Linked DNA regions of Homo sapiens. The protein of the gene in region 2 purifies or fractionates together with the protein of the main gene of each other region. This does not show direct contact. Each region holds a gene or a part of one and is shown on either strand. Other genes may lie near its edges. The genes, in order: COQ7, RCN2, CRY1, POC5, POLD3, CORO1C and EMC2.

Evidence for each region.
Region 1: the proteins of RCN2 (region 2) and COQ7 purify together in Homo sapiens (co-immunoprecipitation; one large-scale study listed by IntAct). This does not show direct contact.
Region 3: the proteins of RCN2 (region 2) and CRY1 purify together in Homo sapiens (co-immunoprecipitation; one large-scale study listed by IntAct). This does not show direct contact.
Region 4: the proteins of RCN2 (region 2) and POC5 purify together in Homo sapiens (co-immunoprecipitation; one large-scale study listed by IntAct). This does not show direct contact.
Region 5: the proteins of RCN2 (region 2) and POLD3 purify together in Homo sapiens (tandem affinity purification; one large-scale study listed by IntAct). This does not show direct contact.
Region 6: the proteins of RCN2 (region 2) and CORO1C fractionate together in Homo sapiens (co-fractionation; one large-scale study listed by BioGRID). This does not show direct contact.
Region 7: the proteins of RCN2 (region 2) and EMC2 fractionate together in Homo sapiens (co-fractionation; one large-scale study listed by BioGRID). This does not show direct contact.

Annotation. Positions count from the first base shown.
Region 1 is NC_000016.10:19,074,114-19,077,613, reverse strand, and holds part of COQ7 (NADPH-dependent 3-demethoxyubiquinone 3-hydroxylase, mitochondrial), read right to left. Parts: intron 1,894-3,500; coding exon 1,754-1,893; intron 309-1,753; coding exon 240-308; intron 1-239. UniProt on the Homo sapiens protein: Catalyzes the hydroxylation of the 5-methoxy-2-methyl-3-(all-trans-polyprenyl)benzoquinone at the C6 position and participates in the biosynthesis of ubiquinone.
Region 2 is NC_000015.10:76,951,821-76,954,893, forward strand, and holds the end of RCN2 (reticulocalbin-2 isoform a precursor), read left to right. Parts: 3' UTR 1-2,573; downstream 2,574-3,073.
Region 3 is NC_000012.12:107,024,050-107,027,549, reverse strand, and holds part of CRY1 (cryptochrome-1), read left to right. Parts: intron 1-3,500.
Region 4 is NC_000005.10:75,689,938-75,693,437, reverse strand, and holds part of POC5 (centrosomal protein POC5), read left to right. Parts: intron 1-937; coding exon 938-1,042; intron 1,043-2,875; coding exon 2,876-3,055; intron 3,056-3,500. UniProt on the Homo sapiens protein: Essential for the assembly of the distal half of centrioles, required for centriole elongation. Acts as a negative regulator of centriole elongation.
Region 5 is NC_000011.10:74,599,082-74,602,581, forward strand, and holds part of POLD3 (DNA polymerase delta subunit 3), read left to right. Parts: intron 1-3,500. UniProt on the Homo sapiens protein: Accessory component of both the DNA polymerase delta complex and the DNA polymerase zeta complex.
Region 6 is NC_000012.12:108,725,019-108,728,518, reverse strand, and holds part of CORO1C (coronin-1C), read left to right. Parts: intron 1-3,500. UniProt on the Homo sapiens protein: Plays a role in directed cell migration by regulating the activation and subcellular location of RAC1. Increases the presence of activated RAC1 at the leading edge of migrating cells.
Region 7 is NC_000008.11:108,481,624-108,485,123, forward strand, and holds part of EMC2 (ER membrane protein complex subunit 2), read left to right. Parts: intron 1-3,500. UniProt on the Homo sapiens protein: Part of the endoplasmic reticulum membrane protein complex (EMC) that enables the energy-independent insertion into endoplasmic reticulum membranes of newly synthesized membrane proteins.

The DNA.
Region 1 (3,500 bases), on a different chromosome or scaffold from region 2:
GTGTCTGGGAAAAAAAAAAAAAAGCTTCTGGGGAAAAGGAGAAGGCATAAAGCAAGAAAGGAGATTCCCAATCTGGAGCAATAATGCGTTTGCTTGCTTTTTGTCAAAGCAACGTCATTGGTTTTCTCTCCCTTTCGCTGTCACTTTAAAATGTATTTTTCTGGCAACAGAAACCTCCTGCCCCTTCAGCCTCCCAAATAAGGAGTCCCAAAGCAGAACAGGTAACAGTAGGGCCCTACCAATTCTGCATCATGGTCGAGGCCTATGTCATGGTGCTCAAGCTCTTCATCCCGAAATTTCTTTATCAGCTGGTTAAATAAAAAGACACCAAAGCAAGTTAGCCTTCCAACTCTCCTGCTGTTCCATTTCATTTTGGAGGCTAAAGCCTCTTATTATGGCCTAAGACAGGGAGGCCAGCTTTTCCTCTAAAGGGCCAGAGAGTAAATACTTTGTTGCAACTACCCAACTCTGCCACTGTAACCAGAAAAGCAGCCGGAGACATGCAAACAAATGGACGTGCTTGTGTTCCAATAAAAGTTTATTTAAAGAAACAGGTGGCTGGCCACAGGCCATAGTTTGCCAACCTCAGATTTAGACTCTAAAAAACTAAACAGTTCCCTTATTTGCTGTGGAAAATTATCTCAGGATATCTATTCATTTATTCAATCTAAAGGGTTCCTGCTCACAGCATCTGCTCAGAATCTACCAATGATAAAGAAGTGGGCCGGGCGCGGTGGCTCACGCCTGCAATCCCAGCACTTTAGGAGGCCAAGGCAGGAGGATCACCTGAGGTCAGGAGTTCCAGACCAGCCTGGCCAACATGGTGAAACCCCGTCTCTACTAAAAATACAAAAATTAGCTGGGCGTGGTGGTGCATGTCTGTAATCCCAGCTACCTGGGACGCCGAGGCAGGAGAATCGCTGGAACCCGGGAGGCGGAGGCTGCAATGCAGGCGGAGACCACTGCACTCCAGCCTTGGGGACAGAGTGAGACTCCATCTCAAAAAAAAAAAAAAAAAAAAAAAAAAAGTGAACAGCACCAGGTGGTGTGGCTCACACCTGTAATCTCAGCACTTTGGGAGGCCGAGGCAGAAGAATCACTTGAGCCCAGGAGCTCAAGACCAATCTGGACAACATAGAGAGAGACTGTGCCTACAAAAAATTTTAAAAATTAAAAATAAAATAAGTGAACAGGACAGGGCTCAAGAGACAAGGGTTCTGGCCGGATGTGGTGGTTCATGCCTATAATTCTAGCACTTTGGGAAGCTGAGGAGAGAGGACTACTGGAGCTCAGAAATTCAAGACCAGCCTGGAAAACATAGTGAGACCCCATCTCTTAAAAAAAAAAAAAAAAAAAAAATTAGCTGTGAGTGGTGGCTATGTATGTAGTCCCATAGCTACTCGGGAGGCTGAGGCAGGAGGATCACTTGAACCCAAGAGTTTGAAGATGCAGTGAGCTATGACTGTGCCACTGTACTCCGGCCTGGGCAACGGAGCAAGACCTCATCTCTAAATAAAAAGAAAAAAGACAAAGGAGACAAGGGTTCTAGTCCCAGCTCTGTCTGTGCTGTATGGCCAGGGCAGACGGGTTCACCTCTCTGTTCCTCAGTTTGCTCACCTTTAAACTGAGGCACTGACCTGAGCCTCTAAACCCCCATCATCCCCTAACAATCTCTAACATGTTTTCCTCTTACCCAATTGCTATCTGCCATTTTCCTCCTTGAGCAGCCCCGTTCTAGAGCACGGATAAATACCTGAAGAAGTTCCTCGTATTTTTCAGGGTCCTCCTCCATCAGCGTCCTGATCTGGTTGTTGTAGTGATGTGCTATGCTCTCTTCCACCGCCACGGTGCAGGCCATGGCACCTTCCTTCCCGAGCAAGGCGGTCCCCGCCCCTGGGATTGTTAAACCCAGACCAGAAAAGTAAGAGACAGATATGACCGGTAATGGAGACCATCTGTGGCCAGGGCTTCTTAACCTCTGCACCAGACATCGGGCCGGGTCATTCTTTGTGACAGGGGCTGTCCCATGCATGGTGGGATATTTAACTGCATCTCTGACCTCTACCAACTAGATGCCAGCAGTGCCAACTAAGTTTTGACAATCAAAACTGTCCCGAGGGCTGGGCACAATGGATCACGCCTATAGTCCCAGCACTTTGGGAGGCCGAGGCGGATCACCTGAGGTCAGGAGTTCGAGACCAACCTGGCTAACATGGTGAAACCGTCTCTACTAAAAATACAAAAATTAGTCAGTGTGGTGGTGGGCGCCTGTAATCCCAGCTACTTGGGAGGCTGAGGCAGGAAAATCGCTTGAAGCCGGGAGGTGGAGGTTGCAGTGAGCCAAGATCACGCCACTGCACTCCAGCGTGGGTGACAGAACAAGACTCCATCTCAAAAAAAAAAAAAAAAAAAAATGTCCCTAGGTATTGCCACATGTCCTCATCAGGGGGACAAACTCACCCTGAGGGAGAACCACTGTTTTAGGAGACACTGGATCCCAGTGTTAAACCTGGAATTACACAGTTAAGAAAAACCATTCTCTTTTCAATGCTGTTTTATCCTGACCGTGGCCAAGAGAAGTCAGCATTTGGGGTGAGTATATCTTTGATCTTTTATACCATTTATTCTTCTCCGTTTTTTAAAAGAGTGAACAGATCTCAGGTTGAGAATCGTTGTCAGGGAACAGTATTTGGCTGCAACTGAATTCTACTAGCTTTTTTTCTCTGTTGTTTATTTTTACTGTATTTTCTATTTATAATACTGACATTAGGCCAGGTGCAGTGCCTCACGCCTGTAATCCTAGCACTTCGGGGAGGCCAGAGAGGGAAGATGGCTTGAGGCCAGCAGTTTGAGACCAGCCTAGGTAACATAACGAGACCCCATCTCTACAAAAAAAATAGAGCTGTGCGTGGTGGCATGCGCCAGTAGTCCAAGATACTCAGGCTCAGAGGCTTAGGTGGGAGGATCACTTGAACCCAAGAGTTTGAGGTTTCAGTGAGCTACGACTATACCACTGTACTCCAGCCTGGGCAACAGAGTGAGACCCTGGCTCTGGTTTGTTTTTTTTTGTTTTGTTTTGGTTTTTTTTTGAGACAGAGTGTCGCTCTGTCACCCACGCTGGAGTGCAGTGGGCCAATCTTGGCTCACTGCAACCTCCAGCTCCCAGGTTCAAGCGATTCTCTGGCCTCAGCCTCCCAAGTAGCTGGGATTACAGGCACGCACCACCATGCCCGGCTAATTTTTGTATTTTTAATAGAGTCGGGGGTTTCACCATGTTGTTCAGGCTGGTCTCGAACTCCTGACCTCATGATCTGCCCGCCTCGGCCTCCCAAAGTGCTGGGATTACAGGTGTGAGCCATCACGCCCGGCCTTTTTTTTTAAAGTACTGACATTAAGATTCTATCTTAAATAAATTTAACCACACACAAAAAAAGGCAGTCAATTTAACCTCGGAAAAATATGAAGTAAACAGAATGAGGTCATAAGAGGACACAGCAAGA
Region 2 (3,073 bases):
GAGTTCAGGTACAACTTCAAAGGGGAAAATTGAATGGGATGTGCACATGTTGGCTCATATGTAGTTCTGATTGGGCCAATTTGCAGGACAGAAAATGATGTCTAGATTATGATATAAATTTAAAGGAAGCCAGGACGTTCAGAGGAAAAGCTAGCATATCATGTTTGCCTTACTTAGTTCTTTCCTTTGCAGTTTTAAAAATAGGCTTTTTTTTTTTTTAGTGTAGTTTTATGTTCACAGCAAAATTGAGCAAAAAGTAGTATAGAGAGTTTCAATATGTCCCCTGCCCCACATACGTACAGCCTCCCCCACTATCCTATCCTATATGTCATGAGATAGTACCTACCAGAGTGGTACATTTGTTAAAATCGATGAAACTGTTAACATATCATTGTCACCCAAAGTGCATAGTTTACATTAGGGTTCACTCTTGGTGCTGCACATGCTCTGGGTTTGGACAAATGTATAATTACATATTCCCACCATTGTAGTGTGGTAGAATATTTCCCTTGCCCTAAAGTCTTTCTGCTCCACCTATTCATCCCTCCCTTCCCTGTAACCCCAAGCAATACTGATCTTTTTACTGTTCATAATTTTTTAGATTGTAGTAAAATACACATAACAAAATTCATCTTAACAGTTTTTAATTGTACAGTTCGGTGGTATGGTATTAAATACAGTCAAAATGTGAAACTATTACCACCTTCCATCTCCATGAACTTCATTTGTAAAACGGAAATTTATACCCATTAAACAATAAAGCCCCCTTTCCCCTTCCCTTCAGCACCTGGCAAACACCATTCTAGTTTTTTTGTTTGAGATGGAGTCTTGCTCTTGTTGCCCAGGCTGGAGTGCAATGGCATGATTTCGGCTCACTGCAACCTCTGTCTCTTGGGGTCAAGCGATTCTCCTGCCTCAGCCTCCCGACTAGGTGGGATTACAGGCGGGCACCACCATGCCCCCTAATTTTTTGTATTTAGTAGAAATGGGGTTTCACCATGTTGGTCAAGCTGGTCTCGAACTCCTGATCTCAGGTGATCCACCTGCCTCAGCCTCCCAAAGTGCTGGAATTACAGGCGTGAGCCACCGTGCCCAGCCTCCCATTCTAGTTTTCTTTTTCTTTCTTTTTTGAGACGGAGTCTCACTCTTGTCATCCAGGCTGGAGTGCAGTGGTGCGATCTCGGCTCACTGCAACCTCCACCTCCCAGGTTCAAGCGATTCTCCTGCCTCAGCCTCCCAAGTAGCTGGGATTATAGATGCCCGCTACCACGCCCGGCTAATTTTTGTACTTTTAGTAGAGACGGGGTTTCGCCATGTTGGCATGGCTGGTCTCGAACTCTTGACCTCAGGTGATCCACCTGCCTCGGCCTCCCAAAGTGCTGAGATTACGGGCATGAGCCACCGCGCCCAGCCCCATTCTAGTTTGTGTCTATTAAAATAGACTCATATAGTATTTGTCTTTTTGTGAGTGGCTTCACTTAGCATAACGTCCCCAAAGTTCACCCATATTGTTACCAGAATTTCTTTCGTCAGGCTGAACAATACTTTATTGTTTGCATATACCACATTTTGCTTATCCATTCACCCTTTGATGGACACAGGTTGCTTCCACCTTTTATTGTGAATAATGCTGCCATGAATATGGGTGTACAAATATTTCTTTGAGATCCTGCTTTTAGTTCTTTTGGATATATATTATACATAGAAGTGGGATTGCTGGATCATATAGTAATTCTATATATATATATATATATATATATATATATATATATATTTTTTTTTTTTTTTTTTTTTTTTTTTTTTTTGAGACGGAGTCTCGCTCTGTCGCCCAGGCTGGAGTGCAGTGGCGCGATCTCGGCTCACTGCAGGCTCCGCCTCCCGGGTTCACACCATTCTCCTGCCTCAGCCTCCCGAGTAGCTGGGACTATAGGCGCCTGCCACCGCACCCGGCTAATTTTTTGTATTTTTAGTAGAGACGGGGTTTCACCGTGTTAGCCAGGATGGTCTTGATCTGCTGACCTCGTGATCCGCCCGCCTTGGCCTCCCAAAGTGCTGGGATTACAGGCGTGAGCCACCGCGCCCGACTAGTAATTCTATTTTTAATATTTTGAGGAACTGCCATAGTGTTTCCCACAGCAGCTGTGCCATTTTGCATTTCCACCAATAGTGCACAAGAGTTCCAGTTTCTTTACATCCTTACCAACACTTGCTATTTTCTGTTTTTTTTTTTTTCTTTTTTTTTTTTAATAGTAGCCATCCTGTTGGGTGAGACGTGGTATCTCGTTGTGGCTTTGATTTGCATTTCCCTAATGGTCTGTCTCTACAGTTTTGCCTGTTCCAGAATATCATTCCTTTGCAATTTAAATGTGAGGATAAATGTATGCTATTGTTTCTCAAACGTTTTTGTGTTACAATACCTCCTTTTGAGTGAGAAATGTCAACTCAAACTTACACTTTTTCACTTAGGAAGATGATTTAGGAAAGCCACTTAGAGTAAAAGTTTTTAAACAACTGTAAAAACTAATTTGCTTCATTGCAACATTTGAGTTCTGTCGAATAAATATTTGGCCAGATTTCCTGCCTGCTATAAAATTTTTTATAACTAGTAACCAATTACCTAAGGGCCTCCAGTGCAGCTACTAAAACGTCTCTATTTTATTTGGCGGGGGGGGGGGGAAACACCTCAATCCAAGCACAAAAAAAACAAGTACTGCTGAATACCTACAGTTTGCCCTATCTTTATCTCAAATTAACCAGTTAGTTCCTGAGCTGTAGAAAGGAAACCATTTGAGCTTATAAAACTATTTTAAAGTGATTATGGGGATTTTTAAAAATCTCATAGCTTTTAATCATGATTTTTCATACCTTAAAGAAAAAAACCCTACTTTTGCTTTCTGTTCCACAGAGATATTTTTCTTCTGAGACCAGGTTCCAATGAACAGAGGGCATCAACATTTTGCTCAGTTATTGTACCATTAGCAGTGATTGGTAACCTAAGTAGAGAGACTGTTCCATTACAATGACACACTAAAAGCATAAACTAAGGTCTTTTTGTGCCAGCTGCTGGCCTGTC
Region 3 (3,500 bases), on a different chromosome or scaffold from region 2:
TTCAGTATTGTAATTAAATAATATGAGGACTGTGCTTCTATGTAGGCAGTACAATTATATGAAGGGATATAGTGAGTTTTACTATCATTTGGCCTATTTAAAAAGCAACCTGTTGTATGTAGTTAATAGCAGTAATAACGGAGCCATCAAATGGGTGTAGTTCAAGAAAATAATATATATGCCAAATTGGAGAAGGTCTGAAAGTATGTTCCTGTTAAGATGATATCATATGTATTTTCAGTGGAATATATTAAAAATAAATCATTCATTTCATTCAATATTGAGTGTCCCAGAGCACATGCATTTCTATTACATTAAAGTTGAACTTGGTGTGTTCTTTGGAACACACTGAATCTGAACTCTAACAGATCTAATCCTTTCCCAGTTAAGGGTAAAGGATTGAGCATTAGATTTTGTATAGTTTTGAAGTAACATTATTCGTTCAGCATTAAAGAGAAATCACACACATCACTGAGTTGATACTTTGAACCTGGGCTGTTAGAGGTATTATCAAGGAAAAATTATATGCTTAGAGATTAGTTGAGTCTTAATTGCGTTGTACCTTGTTTTATAATATTTATAGTCACATTGACCTTGCTACTGGGAAAGGTTTCCTTCAAATCATAGTTCAAAGTCACATTCAGATGAAGTTGTGAATTCAAAGTAATTCTGTATACAGGTGTAGGCATCCAACTAATTCACGTTTTCTTTTGTCATGCCCAAGTATTTACATATAGAAATGCATGGGGTGTTTTCTTTAAAAAAAAAAAAAAAAAAAAACAGGAATTATTCTCAAGGGAAAATAACAACTTCTGTTTGATACATATCTACCATGTGCTAGAGACTCTACTAGGTGATTTTATGAGGCTCCTAATCCTTTCAACAGTTACACAAGACACCCCTACTAGGTCATTTGATCCTGTTTCTAATCTTTTCAACAAATTATACAAGGCACATAATGAGATTTGTTTGCCAAATATAGAAACCAAAATATAGATTAAGAAAACTGTAGTTAGGGCCAGGCCTGATGGCTCATGCCTGTAATCCCAGCACTTGGGGAGGCTGAGGCAGGTGGATCACCTGAGGTCAGGAGTTCAAGACCAGCCTGGCCAACATGGTGAAACCCTATCTCTACTAAAAATACAAAAATAATTAGCCAGGGTGGTAGCACACTCCTGTAATCCCAGCTGCTTGGGAGGCTGAGGCGCAAGAATTGCCTGAACCTGGGAGGTGGAGGCTGCAGTGAGCTGAGATCGTGCCACTGCACTCCAGCCTGGATGACAGAACAAGACTGTGTCTCAGAAAGAGAGAGATGGGGAGAACTGACTTAATTTGAAATCCATTAGGAGGAGGTTTTATTTTATATATATATGTAATATATATATATATATTTTATATATATATGTAATATATATGTAATTATATATAATATATATATTTTATATATATGTTATATATATAATATGTATAATATGAGGTAAAATTTTTTCATCCTCTGAAGGACATAATGTACCTCAGAGGTTCAGAAGATGTAGAAGTGACTTTAAGATGGAAGATTTAAGGTTAGTGTGATATGAACTTAAAGGGATAGGAATTGGGAAAGGTATTCCAAGCCAAGGAAAGGCCCTGGAGCACATTCCAGGAGATTGAATGTGTGCTGAAAGAGAAGTTTGGTTTGGTGTGAGAGAAAGGGGTATGAGGTAGGAAATCAACCTAGAACCCTAGGTTAGTAGCCAAGCAAAATGATTTGTTGTGTATTGTATAGGGAATGAGTCGTTGAAAACCTTTGTATGGGAAGGTGTGCCTCATGAAGATCTGGAATTGCATATAAAATGAATTAGAATGGAGAGAGATTGTTAGTAGGCAGATCTATTTTAAGGCATTGCAGTAAATACAAGCAAGAGATAATATGAACTAGAATTATTGTAGCAAAAACAGAAGTGGAAAGGAAGGAGAACACTAAAAAGTAATAGATAACATATAATTGTGCTTACTATGGGCAGGCACTATTCTAAGAGCTTCGCATATGTTAATTTATTTAATCTCACGAACAATGCTATGAGACAGGTCCGATTACTGTCCCAATTTTACAGATGAGGAGACTAGATAGGACTTTTCAGGATTGATTTAAGGATAGTAATTTGTTGATAGACTTGTTAAATTATAGGACATCTGTGCAATGAAGTACTATGAAACTATGAAAATTGATGCTGTAGAAGTACGTCCATTGCCTTGAAAAGACGTTCACCATGTATTAAACCAGATACATATGTAGTGTATCTCGTTTTTCTTCTACTTTGAAGGAATGTATGCTAATTATCAATTTTAAACTTTTTTTATGAAGTTAAAAAAATGTGTTTGTTTCTCTGTTTCTCACCCCTATCTCAAACCCCCACTCCCTAACGGGGAGATATGATTAATAGCTTGGTAAGTATTTTTCCAATTATTTTCTTGTGCACATATAAACAAAAGTAGATGCATGCAATGTAAATTTTATTTTATCAGAGTAATATATGCAAATAGTTTTAAAAGCCTTATAACAAAGAATAGCATCATAGTGTGTTCTACTTTAGCCTTCTCTTTTGCTTTTCTTTTTGGATCTTTTCTACTTAAAATATTTGATTACAAAATACCTATATTATTTTTTAAGTGTTTCTATTTTTTAAATCTGTGCAGCTTTTATGTGAAATGAGAGATGTAAGTTATATCTGTGGAAGAAGAACACCATACTTAAATACAGCTTTTAGTCTTTTGTTTCATGAAGTACCAAAACAAAATTAATTCTTAGGTTTCAAAACTTTTCCTATTGTAACACATTACTTTAGTCCATATCATTCTGTGCATTTGTTTGGTTCATATAATGTTTATTAAGGCCAGGCCTGTGATGGTTCATGCCTATAATCCCAGCACTTCGGGAGGCTGAGGTGGGAGGATGACTTGAGGCCAGGAGTTCGAGACCAGCCTGGGCAACGTGGGGAGACCCCACCTCTACAAAAACTACAAAAATTAGCTGGGCATGATGGCATATGCCTGTGGTCCCAGTCACTCTAGAGGCTTAGGTGGGAGAAGTCAAGGCTGCAGTGAACCATGATTCCAGCCTTAGCAACAGAGCACAATCCTGTCTCCAAAAAAAAAAAAAGAATGTTTATTAAAAGCATTCGGAATGCTTATTCAGCCTATTAAGAAAGGGAAAGATTATTAATTAATCCATACTTAATTCTTCATTTTATGAATTAATCATGTCCTTTTGGTTTGTTTCTTATCCCATCTTACTGTCATTGAACTCTTGCACCACATAGAATTGTTTTGACCAAAAAGTTGAATATGGAGAACTCTTGCTGTTCTCAGTTCTTACTCACTTCTGGTGGGGAAGATTTTGAAACTAATGGTACAACAGAGATTAGGGGATTATTATTGCCTTAGATTACCCCCTCCAGGACATTTAAGTTTTGTACTGTTTCAATTTAAGAAAACTTAAAATTGCTAGTTCTTTCAACTTC
Region 4 (3,500 bases), on a different chromosome or scaffold from region 2:
TAGCTTAGAATGTATGCCCTTTTCCTCTCTGGAAATTATTTAAAGAGCAGTTATAAATATCTCTTGGTAAATGTGCCCAATTTACAAAATCTCTTTCTAATGTGACTATTTTTAGAAATTTATTTCAGTTATTCAGTTCTTTTATAAGAGAGAATATTATCTTAGGATTTTAAAGCCTTCTGAATTTTTTTTTAAGAACAAGAGTAATAATATCACTGAAGAAGTACATCAACATATAACATTAATAACATTAGTTATATATAATGTTATTAATATGTTATATGTATAACATTAATTATATATATTTACTTATATATATAACATTTTATGTATGACATATGTTATATATGTTATTAATAGTTATATGTATAACATGTTATTAATAGGTATATATAACATATATAATATATAGTTATATATATAACTATAACATATTAATAGTTACATATATAACTATTATTTGCTTTTATAGGTTTGTTTAATCCAGAAAATCATTGGACAGTCGTTGAGGAACTTCTATATCCAAGATAGTAGTAGGGACCAGAAAGATATTTAAATATCTAAATATTCTGGCCCCTGCCCTCAAATCTAGTGAATAAAGACATGGTGTATATAGGAGAACTTTCAAATGTATAATTGTTTTACCTGAATTGAATGTCAGTAGCTAATTTGCATATACATAAACTTTTTATTGGTGATTACCATATACACATAATGAAGACTTCCTTCTTCTTTTGTTCCCTTTCATTAGTTGATATCTAGTATATTCATGTGAGAAAGTTTTACCATCTTTTTAAAGATAATAATGAGGTTAACTGAATGAATATAGTAGTGATCCATACCTATCCTCTCTAGCATTTTTTGATATATGAGAAAATCACTTTACCAATTGCTGTTATTTTAATATCACAATAATTGGGTTAATTGCTGTTTACAGGTGATTTCTAGCTTGTCTCATGCCATAGGCAAGCAAAAGGAAAAGATAGAGTTGATGAGAACATTCTTCCACTGGCGAATCGGCCATGTCAGAGCCAGACAGGATGTAAGTGTCAAAGCAGAAGACAGCTGATGGATGTTAGACTTCTGAATTCAGAAGTGCTCAGGATCACTTATTATAGTTGTTTTCTAATAAGTCAAAATGAATTTGTGATTTAATGTTCCTCTTATTTCAAAGGAATTTGATTTTGATGTAGTTTGGAAAAAATACAGTTTAGATCTTATTGACATATAATATATATATATTACAATAGATACATCATTTCCTGCTTCATAGTAGGTTAATAAGGATTGTTCCTAAATTGTAAAGGCCCTGGTAATAGAACCCCCTCAGATGTGGTTATTGGAGAAAGAAGTTATGTTTAACATATCAAATGCTTCCTATATTGTTTCTACTTTTAAAATGCCTGAATACAACTTATTCATAAAGAGGCTTTACTATATTTATACATTAAATCACAGTATAAATGTTTGTTATGTAGACTTGCCTTAGAGTGAGAGTCAGAGAAAGCCATACCTGTACAGCTTTTTAAAAGTTATCCTTAGCTTGTAGTATATCATTTAAACTTGAACATCTTTTATTTTAAGTAAGAGCTGAGTTGGTATATCAGTAAATAGTGAACTGAAAGAGAATACTAAATTGTTGTATCAAAAGTGGAAAAGTATGAGTATATCCCACAACAAGACATAGTTTAGAGACACATGAATATAGGAGATGAATATATATATATATGCTTTCCATGTATATTCATGTGAGCTATGGAATAATCTCTGTGTATTTAGTTTCCAAGAGATTAGTATTTAAGGAAAAAGCTAGTACAGGTTGAGTATCCCTTATCCAAAATGTTTGGCACCAGGAGAATTTTGGATTTTAGATTATGTTTCATATCACACCTTATGCACAAAATTCATTTATGTTTCATATTTCACCTTATACATATAGCCTAAGGTAATTGTATACAATATTTTTAATAATTTTATGCATGAAACAAAGTTTGTGTTAAGTACTTCTGTGTGGAATTTTTCACTTGTGGTGTCATGCTGACACTCAAAAAGTTTCAGATTTTTGGATTAGAGATGCTCAACCTACTTTATCCTGGAATAAGATTTCTCCTTTAAGAATACTTTCTGGATTTTTCATTTTTTTAATTAATCCCAGTAGATTAAATCCACATTAAGTAAGCTGGTTAAAATGAATATTTATACTCTACTTTGAAACTTGTCAAGTGAAATAATGAGAATACATATTTATTTTTAAATGTTAGCCAGAATAGTTGAGGCTACTGTCACTTTTGGATAGTTTTTCAAACTGAAGAAATTGAGAATTGGAACTACTTCTTCAAAAGAATTTAAATTCATTGATAAAAGAAAAATAGCATAAGTTTTTATTTGGATTGGCACCATATATGATGGCAGGGTTTATAAATTAAATCTTGCTTGTGGTGGCCATCAAACTGAAGAGAAAGCAGTGTCATCTGAAGCCACAGCCACCACCATTTCCTGCCTTCTAGCCACTCTGTTATTCTCCTGGTCCTGCTAAATTCATAACTAAGATGGCAAGTGGTGATTTGCTCATTTTCTTTCATTTGGTTGTATTCTTTTTCTCTAACTTGATTAGTTGCATAAAGCAATGATGTAATGGATAAGAGCTCAGTCTCTGGAGTCAGGCAAGTCTGGCTTTACTCATCTACTTATGTGAACTACGTAGCTTGCTTAACCTCTCTAAGCCTGTTCTCCTATATGCAAGATGAGAATAATATGATTACATAGAATTAAATAATGTGTATATGTACACTTACCACCATGTTATGTTTATTATTACTACCAATATATTTATCAATCAACTGTGTTTTTGAAGTTATATTTTACTTTTATTTAGGTTTATGAAGGTAAACTAGCTGACCAGTACTACCAGAGAACTTTACTGAAGAAAGTCTGGAAAGTCTGGCGTTCCGTAGTGCAAAAGCAGTGGAAAGATGTGGTAGAAAGAGCTTGTCAAGCAAGAGCTGAAGAAGTTTGTATCCAGATTTCCAATGATTATGAAGCCAAAGTTGCTATGGTAAGCATCTTTTTCTGGTTTTCACTTTCTTCTAATACAATAAAAAGATAGATAGACTCACTATTAATTAATAGACTTCTTCTTTTGGTCTTTAATCAAGAATGCAGACAAAAAAATGAAAACGTTTATTCTTGTGTTAATTTAATGTTTATTGTATATTCTTACATGGTTGATATAAGGAGTTGTATAGAAATTGAAATTATTAGTTGGGCGCGGTGCCTCACTCCTGTAGACCCAGCACTTTGGGAGGCCGAGGCGGGCAGATCACCTGAGTCAGGAGTTTGAGACCAGCCTGGTCAACATGGTGAAACCCCGTCTCTACTAAAAAAATTAGCTGGGTATGGTGGCACATGCCTATAATACCCGCTACTCGGGAGGCTGAGGCAGGATAATCTTTTGAACCTGGGAGGCAGAAGTTGCAGTGAGCTATATCACACTGTTGCAC
Region 5 (3,500 bases), on a different chromosome or scaffold from region 2:
GAGTGCAGTAGTTCAAACATGGCTTCCTTTAGCCATGACCTCCTAGGCTTAAGGGATACTCCCACCTCAGTCTCCTGAGAGTAGCTGGGACCACAGGTACATGCCACCATGCTAGCTGATTTTTTTATTTCGTAGAGTTGGGATCTTGCTGTGTTGACCAGGCTGGTCTTGAACGTCTGGACTCAAGCAGTCCTCCTGCCTCAGCCTCCCAAAGTGCTGAGATTATAGGCATGAGCCACCATGCTCGGCCTCACTATAGTATTTTCACAAACATTTCTCTCAAGTAATTTTTTTTTTTTTTTTTGACGGAGTCTCGCTCTGTTGCCTAGGCCGGAGTGCAGTGGCGGAACTCAGCTCACTGCAACCTCCACCTTCCAGGTTCAAACGATTCTCCTGCTTCAGCCTCCTGAATAGTGGGGATTACAGCACCTGCCACCACGCCTGGCTAATTTTTGTATTTTTAGTAGAGACAGGGTTTCACGATCTTGGCCAGGCTGGTCTTGAACCCCTGACCTCGCAATCTGCCCACCTCGGCCTCCCAAAGTGCTGGGAGTACAGGCTTGAGCCACCGTGCCTGGCCTCATACTGTTTTTTTTTAGCATTATTTCAGGCTATGTCATACAACAGTAAACCTGACAGACAGGGTCCCTCCCCTGGTTGATTTAAACAAGATAATTTCAGACTGTGAAAATGCTGTGAAATAATTAAGTTGGGTTAGAGAAAGCGGTATGGGCAATACACTGTACTCATCCTGGGGAACATTATGGGTGGAACTGATCAGGAGGGAAGATTAATGAATTAAAATGGGAAGCTATAATTAATCATGTGTAGGAAGTGTATCTTGTAAGAAGTCATATATGTTGTTATTATTATTATTTTTTTTTTTTTTGAGACAGCTCTGTTGCCCAGGCTGGAGTACAATGGTGCAATCTCGGCTCACTGCAACCTCCGCCTTTAGAATTCAAGCAATTCTCCTGCCTCAGCCTCCCGAGTAGCTGGGACTACAGGCACATGCCACCACGCCTGGCTAACTTCTTGTATGTTTAGTAGAGATGGGGTTTCACCATGCTGGCCAGCTGGTCTTGAACTCCTGACCTCGTGATCCGCCTGCCTCGGCCTCCTAACATGCTGGGATTACAGGCATGAGCCACTGTGCCCAGCCTGTTGTCATTCTTATTTAAGAATATTTTATATTTTGTTTATTAAAAAATATTTGGCTTAGGCTGGGCGCGGTGACTAATGCCTGTAATCCTAGCACTTTGGGAGGCCGAGGAGGGCAGATTGCCTGAGCTCAGGAGTTTGAGACCAGGCTCAAGCTATCCTCCTGCTTCTGCCTCCCTGAGAGCTGGGATTACAGGCGTGAGCCACCACACCTGGCGCTACTGAAATACAAAAATACTAAAATACAAAAAATTAGCCAGCGTGTGCCTGTAGTCCCAGCTACTTGGGAGGCTGAGGCAGGAAAATCACTTGAACCTAGGAGGCAGACATGGCAGTGAGCTGAGATCGCGCCACTGCACTCCAGCCTGGCGACAGAGCGATACTCTATCTCCAAAAAAACAGAAAAGTTTGGCTTAAATTAGATAAAACATGTTTTAAAGACTCAAAAAGTAGGCAGGAATTCTTTCCTTTTTTTTTTTTTTTTTTTTTTTTGAGATAGGATTTTGCTCTTGTTGTCCAGGCTGGAGTGTGATGGCACGATCCCAGCTCACTGCAACCTCTGTCTCCCAGGTTCAAGCGATTCTCCTGCTTCAGCCTCCCGAGTAACTGGGATTACGGGCATGCGCCACCATGTGCCCGGCTAATTTTGTATTTTTAATAGAGACGAGGTTTCTCTATGTTGGTTAGGCTGGTCTCAAACTCTCAACCTCAGGTGATCTGCCTGCCTTGGCCTCCCAAAGTGCTGGGATTACAGGTGTGAGCCACCGCACCCAGCCACAAGAATTGTTTTTTAAAATAAGAGTTTGCTTTGCATTTTCTGTTAATATAAGAGAGAAGAACTGGGGTCAATTTGGGGAGACAAGTGCATAGAGGACAATGACTGATGATATGGGCAGGACTATTAGTTGTGGATAAAAGATAGTGCATTTGGCCAGCAAGCTTGCAAGCATTTTGGGCATGGTACCTGCCTATCATGTCTTCCTTTAGCATGGTCCAAACTAGCATCAATAAACCAAAATGTTTGTGGATCTGTTAGCTCATTTATCCTTCTAACACAATTGTTGTAATGGAAAGAAACATTAGAGGGCAAAGAGGAGGAATCAGCAAAAATCCTGACTAGGGCACCTTTTTGTACTCAAGGTGTTAACAGTCTAGAGGGGATGCGTCATATGTAAAATAAATAGTTAGAAGGCAGGGTGATATGTGCTGTAATAATAGATATGGGATAAAATTTGTTAGAGCTTGGATGGCAGAAGCTCATTGTCTAGGCATGATGGCTCACTCCTGTAATCCTAGCATTTTGAGAGGCCAAGGCAGGAGGATCACTTGAGCGCAGGGGTTCGAGGTCAGGCTGGGAGATATAACAAAAGCCTGTTTCTACCAGGAAGAAAAAATAATAACCAGGCATGGTAGCATGCACCTGTGGTCCTGTTTACTTAGGAGGCTGAGGAAGGAGGATGGCTTGAGCCCAGGAATTCAAGGTTATAGAGAGCTGCGCCACTGCACTTCAGCCTGGGCGACAGAGTGAGACTCTATCTCTTAAAAAAAAGATGTGCCCTGGTGACCTGATGGTGTTGGGGAAGGGTTCATACTTCATAGAGGAGGTGACAACTGAGCTGCTGTCTTGATGAGAAATTAGGTAGTTGAGGCCTGAGAAGAGCCTTCTAGGCAGAAGGAAGGGCATATACAAAGGAATAAAGAGAATTGTAGAATGTTTCATTAAGGATGAAGATAGTGTAGGTATGATGGGGAATGGTCAGAGATACAGAGCCCAGAACAAGAAGGGTCTTACCTGTCATTGCTAGAGATTTGAAGTTGATCCTTAGGGGATGAGAAGCTACTGAAAGCTTTGTTACACTTTTTTTTTTCTCCTCCCTTTTTGTGGAACATGGGGTCTCGCTATATTGCCCAGTCAGGTCTTGAACTCCTGTGCTCAAGCTATCCTCCTGCTTCTGCCTCCCTGAGAGCTGGGATTACAGGCGTGAGCCACCACACCTGGCGCTACTGAAAGCTTTATAACAAGGAATTATGTTTCAGACAAGACTCTCTAGCAACCTTTTCAACATCAACAGTGACTAATAGGCATTGCAAATTTAATATGCCCCCAAACCTAACTCCTGACTTCTCCCCTCAACACCTGCTTTTCCTGCTTTTCCCCCATCTCAGTGAATTACAGCTTCCTTCTTTGGGTTGCCTAGTCCAGTCATTTTTGACTCTTCTTTCTCTTACACTTCAACACAGTATATCAGCAAATCCTGTTGTTTCTCACTTTAAAATATACCCAGAATTCATCCACTAATTACTACCTGCACTGCTACTGCCCCAAACTGAGCTACCAG
Region 6 (3,500 bases), on a different chromosome or scaffold from region 2:
TCAATTTTAGAACATTTTCATCCCCCCCAAAAAGAAACCCCATACCCCTTAGAAGTCCTCCCGTTTCATGTAAATGGAATCATACACTATGTGGTCTTTTGTGTCTTGCCCTTATTTAGCATATTTTCAAGGTTTATATGTGTGGTAGTATTGTATAGTACTTCATTTTTTTTTTTTAATGGTCAAATAATATTCCATTGTTTGGATATGCCGTATTTTGTTTATCCATTCATCAGTTGATGAACATTTGGGTGTTTTTCCTTTTTGGCTATTATGAATAATGCTGTGAACATACGTTTTCATTTCTCCTGAGTATTTACCTAGGAATGTAATCGATGGGTTGTATGGTAACTCTATATTTAACTATTGGAGGAATGGCCAGACTTCTCCAAAGCAGCTGCACCATTTTACGGTATTCACCAAGAGTATATGAAGGTTCTAAATTCTCCACATTCTTGCCAACACTTGTTACTCTCTGACTTTTTGATTCTAGTCATCTGTGTTTCCCTAATGGCTAATGATGTTGAGCATCTTTTCATGTGGTTGGTGAACATTTGTATGTGTAATCTTTGGAGAAATGTCCATTCAAATGCTCTGCCCGTTTTTTAATGGGTTGTCTTTTTATTGGTGTTATAAAAGTTGTTCATGTATTCTAGATTCAAGTGCCTTATCAGCTGTATGATTTGCAAAAATTTTCTTGGATTCTGACATGTCCTTTCATTTTCTTGATGGTGCCCCTTTTTAGGAACAAAGATTTTAAATTTTGATGATTTCCAATTTATGAATAGTGGGGTCTTACTAGTTAGAAATTAGACCTTAAACCACACCCTCCTCAATATTTTGGTTATATAAGTTGAAACCCAAATGTGAGAGGACTGGGGAAAGGTTTGAATTAATATATTTTAAGGTATGCTATAGATGAAAAAGGATTCATCAGGGAACATGCCATTCACCTGTTCAAATCCTCTGGTGACCTCACCTTTACCCACAAAATAAAGTTCAGACTCCTTAATGAGGTGTGGAGTAAGGTGGGCTCTGATTTCAGCCTGCTTTATTTCTCACTATTCCCCTTCCAATGTCTTCATCTCTAGTGCCACTCCCTGAAACATCCCAGCTTTCAAATCTTGTGATGAATTTATTACTTCATCGCCTTTCTACTTCTAGAATCCCACTTGTCCTTTGGGACATGGGTCATGAGGTTTTTCCTCCATGAAAACTTCCTCATCTCACAGGCAGACATTTGTCCCTGCCCTCATGTATTGTACATTCATCAGGACTGTTTGCTACAAAGAACTGGACCTGAATTTGAGCTAATAGTCTGAAAGGTGCCTTTCCATACAAGGCAGAATGCAATAGAGCAATTCACATGGAAGGCAGACTGAGATTCTCTTGTTCATGGCTTGGTCATTAGTGCCTACTGGATATTCGCTGAATGAATGATTGTTTATTGAAGTTAACTGGAAAGATCCTGAGGTCAGTGGGTTTCTCTGATTATCATGAATGTCTTTATTGCCTATGTTAAAATAACATGAATGGGGTAACTCCCTTTTGCCCTTCTGGCATCCAAGTCCAGCTCTTACCAAAAAGTGCTCAAATGTAAAACTGAGTGTTTAAAACATTTCCCCAATGGCAGAACATTCTCGTCCAGGTTCTTTCCCCCGATGAACAGTAATGACTGGCGCACAGTCTCCTCAGTAGGGTAGATGGCCAGCGAACACGATTTAGTCACACCAAATGCATACAGGCCGACCCTGATAGTATTTGGTCAGTTAGTACTGGAACTACCCCTGTCACACTCATGAGAATGGTTGTAAATTGGATTTTAAGGGTGTGTACTTTCTTTTCATTCTTTTTTTTTTTTTTTAATGTTTTGTAGAGATGGGGTCTCACTATGTTGTATAGGCTGGTCTTGAACTCCTGGGCTCAAGCAAGTCTCCTACCTTAGCCTCCGAAAGTGCTAGGATTATAGGCGTGATGCACCATGCCCAGCCTCTTCATTCTTTTGTTCATGCTCTCCTCTCTTGGGGTGTCTGACTCAAATTAGTATTCTTTAGTTATATTTTGTGTTCTTATGTTCATTTTTTTTTTTTTTGAGACAGAGTCTCACTCTGTCGCCCAGGCTAGAGTGCTGGAGTGCAGTGGCACGATCTCAGCTCACTGCAAGCTCTGCCTCCCAGGTTCACGCCGTTCTCCCGCCTCAGCCTCCCAAGTAGCTGGGACTACAGGCGCCCGCCACTACACCCGGCTAATTTTTTGGTATTTTTTAGTAGAGATGGGATTTCACTGTGTTAGCCAGGATGATCTCGATCTCCTGACCTCATAATCCGCCCGCCTCGGCCTCCCAGATTATGTTTATTTTTAAAATACTTTAATTAAAAATATTTCATGCCGGGCGTGGTGGCTCACACCTGTAATCCCAGCACTTTGGGAAGCTGAGGCGGGCAGATCACGAGGTCAGGGGTTTGAGACCAGCCTGGCCAACACGGCCAACCTGTCTCTGCTAAAAATACAAAAATTAGCCGGGTGTGGTGGCACGCGCCTGTAGTCCCAGCTACTCAGGAGGCTGAAGCAGGGGAATTGCTTGAAACCTGGGAGGCAGAGGCTGCAGGGAGCCTAGACTGCGCCATCACACTCCAGCCTGGGCGACAGAGTTGCACTCCAGCCTGGGCGGCAGAGAAAGAATCCGTCTCAAAAAAATAAATAAATAAATAAATAAATTCACTTAGCACCTTTCTGAGAATTAGGAGAAACCAGTTGGCCATTTCGGGATACCTTTTCTTTGTGTGTTCGTTAAAGCTTGGATTGTGGCAAGGTAGTACAGAAGAGAAAGAAAAATGTCAACTTTTTTGTCTAGTTAGGGACAGTGAGCTATGGGTACCTTCTGTAGTTCTCGTTCTAAGAGAGTTTTGTATTTAGGGGAACTGAGGCCGTGAGGGTGCAGGCCTTTAGGGCCAGATAGAGCTGGGCTTCACTCTTGGCTCCGCTTCTTGCTAGCTGTGACTTTGCCAGCTCCCTCACCTCCCTGAGCTTCACTTTCCTCCTCTGTAGTGTGGAGATGCAAAAGGCTTACCTTGCAGGGTCATTGGCAAGATTAAGCAAGGAAAATTATATGAAGTGCCTAATACAGAGTAGGTACTGAATACATTCCTGTTCCCTCTCTTCTCTCTTAAATGTCTGTTAATGAATGGAACTGCAGAGAAGCAAATAGAGTAAGTTTAATACATTTTACATCTGACATTAAGCTATTAAGGGTATGGATTCCTACTCCCACCTGAGGATTTTAGACTTTGAATCAAAGTTGAGTCACTGAAGAGGGCAAAAAATGTCTAATTTTAGGATGGGAAGGCGGTCTTAAAAACACCTCCAGTGTTTTTGCATCTGTCTGAATTGGAAATGTCTATTCAGACAGTCTTCTCTATTCAGGTCTGTGTATTCAGTCTCTCTGTCTGTGTGTCTGTCTGTCCATTTTAAGGAAAGTTCCTGGCAAAAGATGGATTTTT
Region 7 (3,500 bases), on a different chromosome or scaffold from region 2:
AAAAAAGGATGCAAGTCATAAATGTGCCTTTCAGTGACTAATATAAGGTAAATGTATCCAGGCTAATAAATATAAACATTGCAGCATCCCAAAGCTCTCTTGGTAAGTCCTCTTAATTTCTCCTTTTGTATTCCTTAAGAGTACTCACTTATAACCCTATAGTTTATGGAATCAGCCAGTATGTATTCATTTTTGTCTTGCATATTTCTATCATTATTCAGTTTATGGGATTTATCCTTGTTTGTGTCTGTAGTTCATTCATTTTCTTCTGTAGTTCATTGTATGAATGTTATAATTTAGTTATTGCTATGCATTTGGAATATTTTCTGTTTGGGCTATTTTGAATAAACTATACTGAATATTGCTGTACAGGTCTTTTGGTGGAATATATGTGCAGTTCTGTATACCTTTGAGTGAAAATATGGGTCATAGAATGTATGTATATTTAACTTTAGTAGTTAAAGGCAATTTTCCAAATTAGTTTACTCCCACCAGCGGTAAGAGTTCTAATAGCCCCACATCTTCACCAACACATGGTTCTGTCAGTCTTTGTAATTACAGCCATTCTGGTACATGTGTAGAGTGGTACTTCATGGTTTTATTTTGCATGTCCCTGATGATCAGTTGCCATTTGGATGTCCTCTTTCGTGAAATGTTTTTCTCATTGGTTTGCATGACTTATTTCTTTAGTTTTTTGCTTATGAGCCCTTTTTTAGTTATATGTATAAGCAAATATGTATAACTTCTTACTTTTTTGCTCATATGATCTTGATGAATAGAAGTTCTGAAATGAAATGTGTTCGAATGCCTCAGTCATTTGTTTGTGTTTTTTGTGTTCTGTTTAAGAAATCTTTTGCTACTCACGGTCATAAAGAATTCTGTGTGTCTTCAGAATTTCTATTCTTTTACTTTTCGTATTTAATCCACAACCCATTTGGAATTGATTTATTTTTAATTTTTAATTTTTATTTTTTTAAGACAGAATCTGGTTGGTTCTGTTGCCCAGGCTGGAGTGCAGTGGCATGATCATGGCTCACTACACCCTCAACCACCCAGGTTGAGTTATCCTCCTGCCTCAGCCTCCCAACTAGCTGGTACTGTAGACGCATGTCACCGTGCTCGGCTAACTTTTAAATTTTTTGTAGAGATGAGGTCCAGCTGTATTGCACAGGCTGGTCTCAAACTCCTGGCCTCAAGTAATCCTCCTGTCTCAGCCTCCCAATGGAGTGCTAGGATTATAGGTGTGAGCCACCGCATCTGGCCTGGAATTGATTTTTATGTATGATGTGAAATAGGGGGTCCATTGCTCCCCATATGGATATCCAGTGTTTCTGTCCATCTTTGTGTTCCATCATGAGTCCCGTCCATGGAAGCTAGTTCAATGTAGTAAAGAGAAGATTACAGATTTGAACCCATGTTGTCTGGGTTCAAATTTTGACTCTGATATAATTATTAGCTATGCAAACTTGGATAAATTACCTAACATCTCTTGCTGTATCTTTTCTTCTGCAAGATGGCCATAATGAAATATTCTGAGAATTAAAGAAATTAAAACATAAGTTATTATGTTTTTCCTTTTCCCTGTCTCTTCAGTGTGACAAGACCCCCTTGAGGTATATTGAGATATAATTTACATGTAATCAAGTGCATATATTTTAAGTATACAGTCTGAGTTTTGACAAATGTGTACATCCCCTTACCAGCCCCCCACTCAAAATAGCATTTCCATCACCCAAGAAACTTTCCTTCTGCCATTTTGCAGTCAACCTCATCCCCCACTGGGAGACAGACAAGCACTGATCTGATTTTTATCACCAAACATTAGTTTTGCTTGTGCTATAACTTTGTATAAATGAGTTCATAGGTTATGTGCTCTTCTGTGTCTGGCTTCTTTCACTCAGCATGTTTTTGAGATTCATTCATTTACAGTCCATTTCATTTTTCCTATTACTTTGTCTACCCATGTATTTTCCACAAATTATGTAAAGGTAAATTTAAGCCCAAGCAAGGTATCTCAGTTATTACAATGCATGAATCACTGACCTCTGAATTTGATAAGCAAGTTTTTATTGTTTGGTTGTTTTTGTGTTTTTTTCTGGTGAGTTTTCTTATAGATCTTACAGAGAATTATGAAAGATTTACTTAAGCAAAATCTAACTGTATGAAAACAAAAATACAGTATTTGTGAATAATGTAAAAGAGTATATAACTTTCAGAGAATGACATTCTTGATAACTAGGTAAATCTTTGGGATCTCAGTGAGAATTTCTTAATCATATCTAGGAATATAAACCGGTATAGAGTATATAATATTTCGTATGGGATTTTTCTACGTATTTATAAATTAGGGAAAATTAGGTTTCAAGAACTGCTTTTCTTTCTTTGTTTCCACTTAATGATGAAACAGAATATGGCTACTATTTGCTCGTCAATTAGGTAATTGGTTTAGCATGTTCAGTAGAAGCAGACACATTTGATTAATGCACATGAAAAACTTTAATGTGAACCTACTCACAATGATTTTCCAGATAAATCCTTCTTTGTTGCACTGGTAAATCTGTGCTAGTGATTTATATGATATTTATGATTGCAGCAGTGATTCTGTTACTATCCTTTTGGGAAACAGAAAATTAAATCATGATTTGAGGGAAAAAATGATTCTGACTTAATCAGTTAAATTGCCATACAATTCTGGAATAGACAGAATAATTGCATGTCAGATTAAATTTGAAGTGATAGATTTGTATTTCCAACTTTCTTTTATTTGTTCTGACACAAGTAAATTTATTTGGTTTATTCTAAATTGCACTGGTTGTGAGTAATGTTGACACCATCTCAGTTGACTCTTTAAAATTAGCTAATTTTAAAAGATCACACTGTATTATTTTTATGTTTAAGTATAAACCAAGAAAAATACTGTATTTAAAAATACATGTTATGGTTTTAGCTCTACATAATTTTTTTTATTTTTACTTTGCTATTTAAAAGCAATTAGAATAAATGTTACGTGGTAATGTTACTATGTGATGTCCTATTCTGTACCCCTCCCCCAACCCATAAAACTTTTTCTCAGAATTAGACCTTTAAGTATCTGATTAGGACCGTTCCTATTTATGTTTCATAAATGGTGGTAAATGAAAAAGCTTTCTGTTTCTGGTAAATCCTTGTGTAAGTGAATTTATTAACTGGATAACAGAAGTAATAAGCATGCCTCACAGCCTTTAGTCCTCAGGGGAAATTATAAAAAGACAAAATTTTAAATGTGATATTGCTGTTACCATATTTAACATATGAATTCCTTAAATTCGTGATGCCTTTTGAAAGGCAAGGTGATCTTGATTTTTATGAGAAGCTTTTTTTCTTTTTCCTCTGGCATTTCCCCTAGAAACATCCTTTATTTACTTTTTCAAATCAGGATTCAGCTACAGAAACTAATCTAATGGTTTAGAGTGTAGGAAGTGAGGGAATCATAATGTTAAGCTGTAGCCAGAGGGGTCAGA